2 linked regions of the Homo sapiens genome follow. The protein of the gene in region 2 interacts with the protein of the main gene of each other region in a pairwise test. Each region holds a gene or a part of one and is shown on either strand. Other genes may lie near its edges.

Evidence for each region. The genes of interacting proteins can lie anywhere in the genome.
Region 1: the proteins of GORAB (region 2) and BNIP2 interact in binary tests that used the Homo sapiens proteins (3 or more experiments, as listed by UniProt).

The regions. Positions count from the first base shown.
Region 1 is NC_000015.10:59,668,692-59,672,446, reverse strand, and holds part of BNIP2 (BCL2/adenovirus E1B 19 kDa protein-interacting protein 2), read left to right. Parts: intron 1-1,132; coding exon 1,133-1,264; intron 1,265-3,084; coding exon 3,085-3,171; intron 3,172-3,456; coding exon 3,457-3,555; intron 3,556-3,755.
Region 2 is NC_000001.11:170,542,105-170,545,859, forward strand, and holds part of GORAB (RAB6-interacting golgin), read left to right. Parts: intron 1-386; coding exon 387-488; intron 489-2,600; coding exon 2,601-2,741; coding exon of another isoform or gene 2,742-2,745; exon of another isoform or gene 2,746-3,687; intron 3,688-3,755.

The DNA of each region.
Region 1 (3,755 bases), on a different chromosome or scaffold from region 2:
AAAAAATTAGCCAGGCATGGTAGTATGGGCCTGTAGCCCCACCTACTCAGGAGGCTGAGGTGGAAGTATCACCTGAGCCCATGAGGTCAAAGCTGCAGTGAACTGTGATTTTGCCACTGCACTCTACCCTGGGTGACAGAGTAAGACCCTGTCTCAGAAAAATAAATATCCCAGATCTTTTCACGTGCAAGTTTGTGAACAACAGAATGAAGGTTAAAGTAAAAGTATTTGTTACTAGATACAGGACTAGATGAGTCCTTATTCTTTGATATTATGGAACGATAGTTTTCCAATTCAAGAGAAAAATTGTCATTTTAAAACTGGGAAATATATCTCAGATTATTTGTTCCAACTTTGTTTCGTTTTGTTTTGAGATGGAGTTTCACTCTGTCACCCAGGCTGGAGTGCAGTGGTACAACTACGGCTCCCTGCAGCCTTGACCTCACGGGCTCAAGCCATCCTCCTACCTCAGCCTCCCTAGTGGCTGGGACTGCAGGCACATGTCACCACATCCTGCTGACTTCTTAATTTTTGGTAGAGACAGAGTCTCACTATGTTGCCAGGGTTGGTCTCAAACTCCTGGGCTCAAGTAAGCCACCATGCCTTACCTGTCCCAACTGTTTTATGTTAACATTTGCAGGCACATTAAGTGTAAAGAAGTGATTTTTGTCTCAAAATCATGTGGCTAAATTACATTTACCCCTAGAAGGCCAATATAATTGAGCCAAATCAGTTCTTTTTCCACAAGGTCATTCTATTTCTCAGGTTAGTGCAGTTTTTAAAAACCGTATTGTGGAAAGTTTCAGACATACACAGGGGTAAAGAGAAGTATATCAAATCTTCATGTATCAGTCACTTCAACAATTACCAATTTATACTTTGTTCCCACTTCTAACCCCCAGTTTACAAGTTTGAAGCAAATCCCAGGAGCAAATCATTTCACCTAGAAACATTTCAAAATATATCTCTAAAAAATAAGATAATCGTAATACTAGCTAATGCGGTTTGAGCATTTTCATTGTTGCTCTCATTGTAGGAGAGAGGAAGGAATTGTATAATGGTACAATTTAGAGAACCTAGTTCAGTTATGCACAGTGATTTTTAAGGCTTAAACTTAATTTGTTTTTTACAGATATGTTATTGGCACTTTGGAGCTATTAGTAGCAGAAAACTACATGATAGTTTATTTAAATGGTGCAACAACTCGAAGAAAAATGCCCAGTCTGGGATGGCTCAGGAAATGTTATCAGCAAATTGATAGAAGGTAATACAAATACAAGTTGAAAGCTAGTCTGAAAAAATTTTATAATGGCTTTAGGAAATCAAACTTTGTTTTTCGTTGCTATTTTTTTTTTTTAACTTTTTTTTTTTTTGAGACGGAGTTTCACTCTTGTTGCCCAGGCTGGAGTGCAATGGCACAATCTCGGTTCACCGCAACCTCCACCTCCCAGGTTCAAGCGATTCTCCTGCCTCAGCCTCCCAAGTAGCTGGGATTACAGGCATGCGCCACCACGCCCAGCTAATGTTGTATTTTTTGTAGAGACGGGGTTTCTCCATGTTGGTCAGGCTGGTCTCGAACTCCTGACCTTAGGTGATCCACCCGCCTCGGCCTCCTGAAGTGCTGGGATTACAGGCGTGAGCCACCGCGCCCAGCCTTCTGTTGCTATTTTAAAACACCATTTATTTTTTAAATTTTATTTATTTATTTCATGGCAGGTTTCTGTTTTCTAAAGATAGCATTTTAGAATATTGTGAGGGAAATCAATTTTGATTTTTCTATAAAGAATAACCTTAATTCTTCAAACTTACAAAGTAGCTTTATATTTCTCCTTATTTAATTGAAGACTTTCTCCTTATTTATAAGATGCAATTTTCTCCACATTGAACACTTTTTTTCCTATTATTTACGTCTTGGCAAAGGATGGAGAATGTAGTATGTTTCCTATTTCATTACATTGAGTTTTGCCTAATTTATAGTGCTTAGCATGTTTTATGTTTTTGTTTTTGTTTTGTTTTGAGACAGGGTCTCACTCTGTCATCTAGGCTGGAGTGCAGTGGTGCAATCTCTGCTCACTGTAGCGGCAACCTCCCAAGCTCAGGTTATTCTGCCACCTCAGCCTCCCAGGTAGCTGGGACTACAGGCATGTGCCACCACACCCAGCTAATTTTTGTATTTTTTGTAGAGACAGCGTTTTGACATGTTGCCCAGGCTGGTTCTTGAACTCCTGGACTAAAGCGATCCACCTGCCTCAGCCTCCCAAAGTGCTAGGATTACAGGCATGAGCCACAGCGCTCAGTATTTATGTTTTTTAATGGTGCTTATTTAGTTGTAATCTTTCTTTGGAACAAGCTTTAGAAGTGTTTTGTCTTGGGAGTTAGTCATCAGTACTTAATGGAAGGAATGTGATCTTCCGATTGGTTTGATCTTGCTGTGGCTAATTTAAATCAAGTCAGACCCATTAATAGGTTTCTCTTCACATCTAAATTTGACATTGGCTAGCTCTTATGATTATATATGTATCTCACTTTATGTGTGAAATATGCATAATACAAAGAGTATTTAGTCATTTAAAAAGGAGAAGTCTAGGATAAAACCTTTAATTTTTAATCAAAACTTTAAATTCCTTAAGAATAGGAGTTAGATCTGATTTGTTTTTGTTCCTGTGGTCATCTTCTCCACTCACACTTCTCTGCCTGCACAGTGCTTTTCATGGTTTTGAAGAACTTAGCACCAATTTCTCCCTAGTCTTGGAAAATGAGAATAGTTTACTTTTACATTCAGTATTGGCCTCTTTCCCTGTTTACAGAGTCCTGAAGACAAGTGAATGTGTATGCTAGGAGACATTTAGTAACAGGCTATACTGTGGACGTAAATCTGGCCAAATGAAGTAAAGTTCATTTCATAGCAGTAGGAGGGACCATAAGAATTTAAGAGTGCATTTTCTTGTCTACAGGGGTATCACACCTAATTGAGAACTTTTGGGTGAGATTTTTCAACTATTATTTTGTATAAACTTGCAGCATTAGAATTTATAGAAATTTTTAATTTTCTTTGTGTGTGTGTGTTTTTTTTTTAAACTCCAGGTTACGGAAAAATCTAAAATCCCTAATCATTGTACATCCTTCTTGGTTTATCAGAACACTTCTGGCTGTTACAAGACCATTTATTAGGTAATTTTTGAGAGCCATTGACTTTAATTTTATTTTTTTTATTTATTTATTTTTAGTTAACACATAATAACTATACATACTTATGGGATACAGAGCTATATTTTGATATGTGTATACATTGTATAATGATCAAACCTGGGTGATTAGTACATCCATCACCTCAGACATTTATCATCTTTTTGTGTTTTGAACATTCAAAATGACATGATTTTTGTATCTTGTAAACATTGTATCCATTGTATTTGTCAGAAATATGGAAGTAATTATTTTTATTTTCTTCCATAGCTCGAAATTCAGCCAAAAAATTAGATACGTGTTTAATTTGGCAGAACTAGCAGAACTTGTCCCCATGGAATACGTTGGCATACCAGAATGCATAAAACAGTATGTTTTGTTTTATTTCCTTAATTGTATTGGATCTTAACATTTTGATGTGCAATGGATAATACTTTTCAATACTCATTCTTTATGTATTATATTTTATAACTGTGCGCGCGCGCGCGTGTGTGTGTGTGTGTAACAAAGAAAAAGAGGAAGAAGCCATTTTCCCACACCATCCCCCTAAGTTAGCATTTTCTTCAGGC
Region 2 (3,755 bases):
AATATGACATCAGCTACAAACCAATTTTTATTAATCTCCATTCTGCATATAATACATAATTAACTTACACAAATTTCTTTGTACTCCTAAACACATGCCACAGTATTCTGGCTTCCAGTTTGTGGATTCCTAGATTATATATATAATGGATTTCAGAGGTCCAATTTATGTAAGCCTCTTTACTTTAGATCGTAGTCTTTGTTCCCATTAGAGCAAAATAATGAACTGCAGATGGGTTTCTTTTAAGAGGACTTTTGAAAGAACATATACATAAATCTTCTTGATTAAATTTTATACTTAGAGGACTGAGACTGGTAAGGTGTTGGATAGGGTAGCAGTTTCTTTTTCTTTCATAAACTCATTTTTATGCTTTTTTTGCCCCCTAGGCAAGAAAAATCTCGTTGGGAAGTCCTCCAACAAGAACAACGGCTAATGGAAGAGAAAAATAAACGTAAAAAAGCTCTTTTGGCTAAAGCTATTGCAGAAAGGTGAGGCACCTGAACCAGGAGAGGCTGTTTGTAACCTGTAACCAGTTGTGTCATGTGTTATATTTGTTTTCCCATGTCTCTTTTAATAAACTGATATTTTTTCTTCAACCATTACTTTTAAGACTAACTAAACAAATTATGCTTTATAAGTGATACTGAAATACTAGTTATAATTTATTAAAGAGAACTTTTTAAGCATAGAGCATATTAAATTTGTAAATATAGTTGCAGTTTTAAAGACCTTCATTAGTGCTCCCAGTTTTAACCATCTACACATTCATAAGGGAAGCAGTAAATAGCTATCAGTATATGTAAATTAGCAACAAATGCAAGTTTTAATTTTTATGTGGGGAGGCCTTAATCATTTGATGTGTAGAGGAATAAGGTTTTCTACATAAGTGACATACTCCCATGAATCTTAATTGGATTTCCTATGGGCATTTTTCTTAAATAATTTGCCCCGCCTCCACAAGTAGAAGATACATGATATAGTTTAACTTTTTATTGATGACTCAGGGTCATTATTATGAGCACTGTGTGAGATTCAATTTTTCTTTCACCTTCCAGTGTCTATCAGCAGCCCCTTCACATTTACTGCATTGTACCAGCCGCACACAACAACATTCCCATTGGAATCATTCTTCCCATCCCCCACCACTCTTGCTGAGTTTGTAGTTTCTGTCTAATCTCCTGTGGCCTTAGGAAACTAAACTTAGTCAATATATCCATGGTTGTGAATAGTGAAAACTAAATGCAAGGAAGTACATTTTCTTTTTAGACTTCCAGAAAAGTCTGTCAAACTGTTACTGCTTGAAGCTAGAGTATGTGTAGGGGCAGGAGAAGAGGGAAGAAGGTGATGGGTATAAGAGTAGTTCAGAATTTTGTCTGCCAGAGGAGTGAGTGTAGTTGAGAAATGGTGATTTTTCTTTTTCTACTACTGGTACACCTTGATCTTTCTTGAAGCATAGGAAATAATGCAACTCACTGAGTTACTATGTTTCAAAGGAAAAAACCAGCAGATAAAAGAGTAGTGCCCTCTTTTTTTTTTTTTTTGGTAAGTGATTATTTAAAAATAATTAAAGCATTTTAGTAGTCTTCAATTTCTAAGAGATGGGAAGGCTGTTTTCTGTGGTTTTACAAAAAGATGTACAGGCTCAGCAGTTCTTCTCATAAGTGCTTTTGATTTTAGACAGCACCAGTATAAACAGAAGTGTAAGGAAATACAACGTTTGAACTATTAATAAATGGACAATGAAGTACTTGACGTAAAAGAATCATACTGTTAAGTGAAGTTTTGTAGGCAGAAAGGAAGGGTAAATGCCTAAGAGTAGAAATCAAGAGAATGTGCTATGTAACATGGTGGATTTATGTGGGGATTTTTCTTCTTCCTTCACAATGTGTGTGAAAATTTGAAATGAGTGAAATCATGATTAAAGGGTTGCTTTTTTATTTGTTTGTTCCCTTTCTTAAGTATATATTGTACTTGGGAGAGGGGATTGAGAAATTATGAGGTTGGATGTGCTTTTAAATAAGGAAAATGAGTGTTTTGATGTTCAGCTCCATAAAGAATTTTCGTAACTAGTAGTTTTCCTAGAGAACAAGAATCAAAGCAATAAAAGTTTGGGGAAATGGGTCCCAAGAAAGTTAAAACTAAGTGGATGTTCTCAGATATATAAAGAGGTGTGGTTTAGTATAGACATCTATCTGTTCTTAATGTCAGGTAAGTATCAGACAAATGAAAATGGGCTTAGCAAGAGGAAGAATTAAAGACTAGAAATTTGGAAAGCTCTGTTGAATGTTTCAATGTAAAGGGAACACAGATATATTCTTTTAGTGTTTGTTCTCTTTACAGAATGAATATCAATCTAAAATGAACTATTTGCTGAGTTTTTTTAGACTTATTTGTTACTTTATGAAACATGCAAATATAAAATTTCAAAAACTCAAATGTTAACCAGCTTTTACTTTATTTCAATTTTTCTGATTTTTTTCTAACTTTTAAAATATAAATTATAAATGTATATGCAGTATCTTGCTTTTTCACTTACATTGTATATGGACACATGGTTTTAAAATGTTCTTATTTTCCCACTCACATACCTGATTTTCTAGATCCAAAAGAACTCAGGCAGAGACCATGAAACTAAAGCGGATCCAGAAGGAGTTGCAGGCTTTAGATGACATGGTGTCAGCTGACATTGGAATTCTCAGGAACCGGATTGATCAGGCCAGCTTAGACTATTCATACGCTCGGTGAGTTGGGGAAATTGAATCTGAACAAGGAGTATGATTTAATTAATGTTTATTGCCAGCTGTTCCAGGGGCTTTTATGTATATCATCATTGAAGCCTCAAAACAACCCCATTCAGTGCTGTATTTATTCTTCTTTTGTGCTAATTCAAGTGTCTCCTCTTCAGTGAAGTCTTCCTTAACTCTGCCCTACTAGTTAACCTTGTTCGTGTGCCATTAGAGCAGTTCTTGCATTATTTATTTACGTTTTAGTCTTTGCTGCGAAACCCTCAGCTATTTAATGTTTGGAAGTGTTTTTGCTCATCTTTCAGCATCTAGCAAAGTAAATATCTGAGTGGTTTCGCCAAAACTGTTACTCTGACACCAAGTCTGTGTTCTTTCCATTAAAATTTTTGATATCTGATATAGTCCTATAGGATTGAAGTCTAGTCCTCACTTTAGCTTTCATCAGAGTAAGAGGATCTAGTTTAGTTTTTAAAAGCTTATGAATATTTTAAGCATATCCTCTGTCTTGGAAATTTGAAATATTTTCTCTTTTTTTTTCCTTTCAATTATACTCTGTATGAAATGGTTTAATATATGTTTCCTTGGTTTCAACCATTGGCATTTTTTAAAAGAGAAAAAATACCATGGAGTATTTTTAAAATGAACTAACACATGTAATGAATTACATGGACTTTGCAGACAGATAAAAGGGCAAAAAAATATGTCCAATTTCAGGGTTTTCAGCCCTTTCAACATTGCTTTAATCATCCTGGTTTGTCTTTTTTCACAAGGGAATGCTGTGTTAATGACTCAGTTTTCTATCTTACTCTGTTACACTAGAAATGAATCAGAATGCCTCATTAGGCCAGGGTAAACCACAACATCAGAATGTTTATATAACAATTTATTAAAGCGGAAATGCTTGATTGTGGTTTTTAATAAACTGTTGAGTGTTTAAGAAAGAGTCTTGTGGTTGTCCTTGTGACTTTTGTAATTGTTGTTGGACCATATGCTATTAGACTTAGAGTTGTC